2 linked regions of the Homo sapiens genome follow. The protein of the gene in region 1 purifies or fractionates together with the protein of each later gene. This does not show direct contact. Each region holds a gene or a part of one and is shown on either strand. Other genes may lie near its edges.

What was found. The genes of interacting proteins can lie anywhere in the genome.
Region 2: the proteins of HAUS2 (region 1) and YBEY purify together in Homo sapiens (affinity purification with mass spectrometry; one large-scale study listed by BioGRID and IntAct). This does not show direct contact.

What each region holds. Positions count from the first base shown.
Region 1 is NC_000015.10:42,558,838-42,562,337, reverse strand, and holds part of HAUS2 (HAUS augmin-like complex subunit 2), read right to left. Parts: intron 3,000-3,500; coding exon 2,930-2,999; intron 1,557-2,929; coding exon of another isoform or gene 1,468-1,556; intron 1,069-1,467; coding exon 936-1,068; exon of another isoform or gene 648-935; intron 1-647.
Region 2 is NC_000021.9:46,289,342-46,292,841, forward strand, and holds part of YBEY (endoribonuclease YbeY), read left to right. Parts: intron 1-1,992; coding exon 1,993-2,121; coding exon of another isoform or gene 2,122-2,148; exon of another isoform or gene 2,149-3,177; intron 3,178-3,500. UniProt on the Homo sapiens protein: Single strand-specific metallo-endoribonuclease involved in rRNA maturation.

The sequences.
Region 1 (3,500 bases):
AGGCATGAGCCACTGTGCCCAGCCTTGTTTTGTTTTTTTGGAAGAATAAGTTTTTGTATATCTATTATTTTCCTACAAAATAAAAAATCTGACACTTAAGATACTGATTTGCTTAAGCTAGTGAGGCACTGGCGGAGAAAGTTAGCAATGAGATCCCCAGATGCTTGCTTCGTATTTATTTGAGACAGGGTCTCACTCTGTCACCCAGGCTAGTGCAATCACAGCTCACTGCAGACTTGACCTCCTGGGCTCAGGTCACCCTCCCAGCTCAGGAATACAGGTGTGTTCCATCATGTGTTGCTAATTTTTATATTTTTTTTTTTTGTAGAAACAGGGTTTTGCCATGTTGTCCAGGCTAGTATTTATCATTAGTCATAATCTACATCTTCAATTTGATACTTGTAATACTCTGTGAGGAAGAGGGCAATAGAACTCATCTCTATTCTATTTATTGGGAAACTAAGGCAAAAATGTAAATCATTTGCTCAAGGCTTTGAGGCATATAAACAGTAGAGATGAGAACAGAATCCAGGTTTTTTCCTCCCTTAGTTGATAGTGTTTTCATCTGCCCCAGTTAAACCCCGCCAATAGAATTTTTACATATAGGCAACATTAACTCAACAATGAATGTACTTTACAACAATGAATTTACTTCACATACAAACAGTTTTTATTGTTACATGTTATGGATCTAATTTCTTTCATTAAACTCATAATTTATAATTCCCAAAACACGATGGCCAAGTTCTTCCTTTTTGCCATAGGTATAATGGTTTAAAAGCAAAGATTTTCTTTCTGATTTAATATATCACCATTAATAATGTTAACAAATACAATCACTAATTGTTTTATGAATTCTGCTACAAAGTAACTGCAAAACAAAAAGTAAACTCAGAAAACAGGTGTAACTGTTAATTTCTACTTTTCAGTCTAACCTGTGATAAACAGCTTCAATAGGTAAGTTTTCCTGGCACATGGGTTTCAACAGTCTTTGCCTAAGGGATCTCTTCTCTTTCAGCACTGCTTCCAAATGATTATTCATGCTTTGCAGAGTATGACACTTCTGAGCTATACAAATTAAAAAACAGTAATTATAGTTAGCAATAGGACAAATAACAGAATAATTTCTTCTTTGCCTTGGTTTGACACTACCCATGTCAAAAATTCATCCTATCATTACCCTCCTGTCTCCTTTTTGCTGTCTTTAATACCAATACCAATTTCATTTTCAACAACTTTCTCTTAGTCGGTTTTTGTATATCTAATATATTTCTATTATCTCTTTTCCTAGTGATAACCAAATCTAGTGCTAAATTCTTTCTCTGTGTTTCTCATCTCTACTTCTTATTCAGTTCTTATAGCCAGAGCTATATTCTTAACACAAAGTCTTTTTTCCTATCCCTGACTCTAATAGTCTATAAAAGACCATCGAAAAAGAGTCACCTTAGCTGGTGCTCTAGCTCATACCTGTAATCGCAGTGTTTTGGGAGACTGAAACGGGAGAATTGAGGCCATGAGTTCGAGACCAGCCTGGGCAACATAGCAAGACTTCATCTCTACAAAAAAATTGAAAAAACAAAAATTAGCTGGGCATGGTGGCACATGCCAGTAGTCCTAGCTACTTGAGAGAATCAGTTGAAACCACGTGTTGAAGTTACAGCGACCTGTACTTCAGCCTGGGTTACAGAGTGACACACTCTTAAAAAAAAAAAAAAAAGTCATCCTACAAGCTATTTCTGATTATCTCATTATTTTCCCCATTCAGTTAATGGCTGCCAATTGACCTTTCTTTAAAATTCTTCTTTGGAAAAATTCAGATTTGCAGAAAAGTTTCAAAAAAAGCTTGGTGAACTCACACATACATTTTACTTATTCACCGATTATTAACATTTGGCTACATTTTCTTTTTATCTTCTTTCTCTCTCTTCTCTCTCTCTCTCTCTCTCTCTCTAATTTTTGCTGATCCACTTTAGAGTAAGCTGCAGACAGCATGATATTTTTTACCTGTAAAACGTTAGCATGTATTTCCCAAGAAGAGGAACATTCTCCTATATAACTACAGCACATTATCAAATTCAAAAAATAACATTAATACAATACTACCAATATTTAATACAGTCCATATTTAAACATCACTAAGTATCCCAATAATGTCCTTTACAGCAAAAAGAATTTTAATTTTTGAGACAGGGTCTCACTCTGTCACCCAGGCTGGAGTGGAGTGCTACGATCACAACTCATTGCAGCCTCGACCTCCCAGGCTCAAACAATCCTTCTGCCTCAGCCTTTCATGTAACTGGCACTACAGGTACATGCTACAATGCTGGCTAGTTTTTGTATTTTTTTTGTAGAGATAGGGTTTCACCATGTTGGCTGGTCTTGAACTCCCGGGCTCAAGCAATCCACCCACCTTGGCCTCCCAAAGTGCTGGGTTTACAGGCGTGACTCTCCACGCCTGGCCACAAGAACATTTTCTCATCAAATATTCAAAACATTGCCAGCCATGGTGGTATGTACCTGTGATCCCAGCTACTTGGGAGGGTGATTTGGGAGGACTGCTTGAGCCATTCAGGACTACCCTAGGCAACATAGGAAGACCCCATCTCATTAAAATAAAAAATCGATCCATGATCATACAGTGCTTTAGTTGTCATGTCCCTTTAGTCTCTTTTAATCTGAAAAGTTCCTCAGACTTTGTCTTTCAAGTTCTCCTGACTTTGAAGAGCCAATTTGGTGACTTTTTATGCTATTTGTACTACTCAAGCCAACAGAACTTCTATTTCAGCATAGAAATACAAGATTTCATTAGCTTTGGGACAACACCTGGAAAAATGATGGTGTATCATAATTTGACTGACTGGTGCTTATTTACAGTAATCCAAGAAAAAGTTGAAATTCCAGTGATTATCCACTTAACCAAACCACTTACCCAAAAAGAAAGGATGAACAACATCTGCTGTATCTTTTTCTAGTTTCAGGAGTTCAATTTCCAGGTTTTTCTACATGAGGAACAAAAGTAACATTTAGCTCAATCAGAAAGTGTCCATGGCCAGGTGCGGTGGCTCACTCCTGTAATCCCAGCACTTTGGGAGGCTGAGGCAGGTGGATCACCAGAGGTCAGGATGTAGTGAGCCGAGATTGTGCCACTGCACTCCAGTATGGGTGACAGAGTGAGACTCTGTCTCAAAAAAAAAAAAAAAAGAGTCCAGGGGATTTACTGAAGTTTTTCATTTTGCTGTTCTTGCCCTGCTGCTGCTACTCTTACTACTATTACTGTAACTACTATTAGTAAGTAAACATGTAGCTAGCTAGTTATGTGCTAGACACTGTTCTAAGTTCAAAGGAATTGCTGTTTGAACCAATAAAGTTTTTTTGTTTTTGAGACAGGGTCTCCGTCTGTCACCCAGGCTGGAGTGCAATGGCCCAAACATGGCTCACTGCAGCCCCGATTTCCTAGGCTCAAGTGATCCTCCCAGCTCAGCCTCCCAAGTAGCTGGGAC
Region 2 (3,500 bases), on another chromosome or scaffold:
TGTTTATTTGGGATAGAGCATTGCAGTGAAAATACATGCCACATGCCATAGTAGACTGTGTGGATATTCGCATATTCAGGGAGGTAAAGGAAGGCAAGGGTTTTGTTTTTTTTTTTTTTTTTGAGACGGAGGCTTGCTCTGTCACCCAGGCTGGAGTGCAATGGCACAATCTCGGCTCACTGCAACCTCCACCTCTCAGGTCCAAGCGATTCTCCTGCTTCAGCCTCCCGAGTAGCTGGGATTACAGGCGCCCACCACCACATCTGGCTAATTTTTTTTTTTTTGTATTTTTAGTAAAGTTGGGGTTTCACCATGTTGGCCAAGCTGGTCTAGAACTCCTGACCTCAGGTGATCTACCCGCCTCTGCCTTCCAAAGTGCTGGGATTACAGGCGTGAGCCACTGAGCCCCGCCTGGCAAAGGTTTTTAAAGGAAAAAAACATAATTGTTTTGAGATAATGATCCTTGGTTGCAAAGATCAATAACAAGATTAATGTCCGTCCAAGGTTAGACAGGCAGTTGCTGGGCAGATTATCCTTGCAGAAGTTTCTGTGTGCGTGTAAGGTTGTCATAGCCTTTGTGCAAGGTTGCAGTTTTGTGTGTGTGTAAGGTTGTCATAGCCTTTGTGCAAGGTTGCAGTTTCGTGTGTGTGTGTAAGGTTGTCATAGCCTTTGTGCAAGGTTGCAGTTTTGTATGTGTGTAAGGTTGTCATAGCCTTTGTTGCAGTTTTTGCCATCTTTAGTGACAGTTTTTGTTATCAGGCATGGAAGTATGAGAATCCTCTCTTCATAGCTTTCCCCAGCTCTATTTGTCAGGTTTTTTGGTTTGTTTGTATAACCCTAATGGCTCCATTTTTATTCTGACAAATTCCTTTTTTTTTTTGAGACGGAGTCTTGCTCTGTCAGCCAGGCTGAAGTGCAATGGCGCAGTCTAGGGGCTCACTGCAACCTCCGCCTCCCAGGTTCAAGCGATTCTCCTGCCTCAGCCTCCCGAGTAGCTGGGGTTACAGGCATGTGCCATCACACCTGGCTAATTTTTGTATTTTTAGTAGAGATGGGGTTTCACCATGTTGGTCAGGCTGGTGTCAAACCCCTGACCTCTTGATCTGCCCGCCTCGGCCTCCCAAAGTGCTGGGATTACAGCTGTGAGCCACCACGCCTGGCTATTCTGACAATTTTCACAATGGAAACAATTTAGGGCACTTGTGTACGGTTGGCTGGGCAACCCACCCGCCACAGGCCCAGCTGCCACTCTGGCCTGAGACATGCATCTTAAGAGTGATTTGGGTGGCTGGCACAGTGGCTCACGCCTGTAATCCCAGCACTCTGGGAGGCTGAGGCAGGCAGATCACCTGAGGTCAGGAGTTCGAGACCAGCCTGACCCATATGATGAAACCCCATCTCTACTAAAAAATACAAAAATTAGGCCAGACGCGGTGGCTCACGCCTGTAATCCCAGCACTTTCGGAGGCCAAGGCGGGTGGATCACCTGAGGTTGGGAGTTTGAGACCAGCCTGACCAACACGGAGAAACCCAGTCTCTACTAAAAATACAAAATTAGCCGGGCGTGGTGGCGCATGCCTGTAGTCCCAGCTACTCGGGAGGCTGAGGCAGGAGAATTGCTTGAACCCAGGAGGCGGACACTCCAGCCTGGGCAACAAGAGGGAAACTCTGTCTCAGGAAAAAAAAAAAAAAAAGAAATACAAAAATTAGCTGGGCACGGTGGCATGCACCTGTAATCCCAGCTACTCAGGAGGCTGAGACAGGAGAATCACTTGAACCCGGGAGGCAGAGGTTGCAGTGAGCCGAGATCGCGCCATTCCACTGCAGCCTGGGCAACAAGAGTGAAACTCCGTCTCAAAAAAAAAAAAAAAAAAAGTGATTTGGCTCAGAGATAAGTGCTTATTTGCCTTGGGATTAACCAGGATGAAACCTGTCAACCTGTGGTTGGGTTACGTTTCCTGTTCTCTAAGTCTACATTTCCTCATTTTTTAGCATCTGAAAGCAGGTGAATTTCCCCAGCCTGATTTTCCAGATGACTACAATTTGGGAGACATTTTCCTAGGAGTGGAGTATATCTTCCATCAGTGTAAAGAAAATGAAGATTACAATGACGTCCTGACTGTAAGCGGGGATGCTGAAATCATATAACCTGGCTCATGGAACATGGGCCTTGCAAAGGGGTCAAGATCACAACCCTGCATCCATGTGTGTCCGTGGGTACCGTAAGGGCTACTGGGGGAAGAACCTGTAAGCAGGGTGTGAGGAGCACCCAGGCTGGGTAGGGACTGCATGCCCCATGCCACAGTTGAAGGAGGGAGAGAACACGCTGTGAAAACACAGAAGCTCCCAGAGAAGCCTTCTCAGCTTTTATCTCTGGAGTAGAGCAGACTATGTTGAGCTAACACAGACCTGCTGAATCAGCTTCTTTCTGAGCTGCCAGAAGTACAGAAGTTGGAGCCTCCACCACCTTCCAGATCTGTTTCTCCTCAGTGTAATCCACCTATGGGTTCTTCCTGCCCACTGCACAGACAAAACCAATTCACTGCAATTGTGGTATTGCAGTAGAGAAAGAGTTTAACACAGAGCTAGCCAAGCAGAAAGGCTGGAGTTATTATTCAACTCAATCTCCCAGAGAACTCAGAGGCTACAGTTTCTACAGGCAATTTGGCAGGCAGGGGCTAGGGAATGCCTGCTGCTGATCGGCTGCAGACGGACCATGGGGTGTCAACGATTTTTGTCCCCTGAGTCCGCCTCTGCGTGGAGCCACGGGATCAGCTGAGTCATGAGTCTCAGGTCCAGGTGGAGTCTGTAGGTTGCCAGAACTCAAAAGTCTGAAAAACATCCCAAAAGACCATTCTTAGGTTGTACTATTGACGTTATCTTATTGGGGAGCAATTGGGGCGGTCACAAATCTCGTGACCTCTGGCTGCGTGAGTCCTGAGCAGTAGGGAATTACAGCAGGGCAAGCTGGGGAAGCAAGGCCTGCGGGCTGGTTCTCCTCAGGACACCTACATCTGAGCAGAATTCAGGCCCCTCCCATCATCCTAATCTTGTGGCCCTTCACAAGCTTCACAGAGGTGGCTTCGGTCTTGAGCAAGGAGGGGATTCGTTTTAGGGAGGGATGATTACTATTCTTGATTTAAAGTTAAACTCTAGATTAAATTCCTCCCGTGGTTAGCTTGGCCTGTGCCCGGGACTGAGTGGGGACAGCCACGCAAGTTAAACTCTAGATTAAATTCCTCCCGCGGTTAGCCTGACCCGTGCCCGGGACTCAGTGGGGACAGCCACGCAAGTTAAACTCTAGATTAAATTCCTCCCGCGGTTAGCCTGACCCGTGCCCGGGACTCAGTGGGGACAGCCACGCAAGTTAGACTCTAGATTAAATTCCTCCCGCGGTTAGCCTGACCCGTGCCCGGGACTCAGTGGAGTCAGCCACACAAGTTAAACTCTAGATTAAATTCCTCCCGCGGTTAGCCTGACCCGTGCCCGGGACTCAGTGG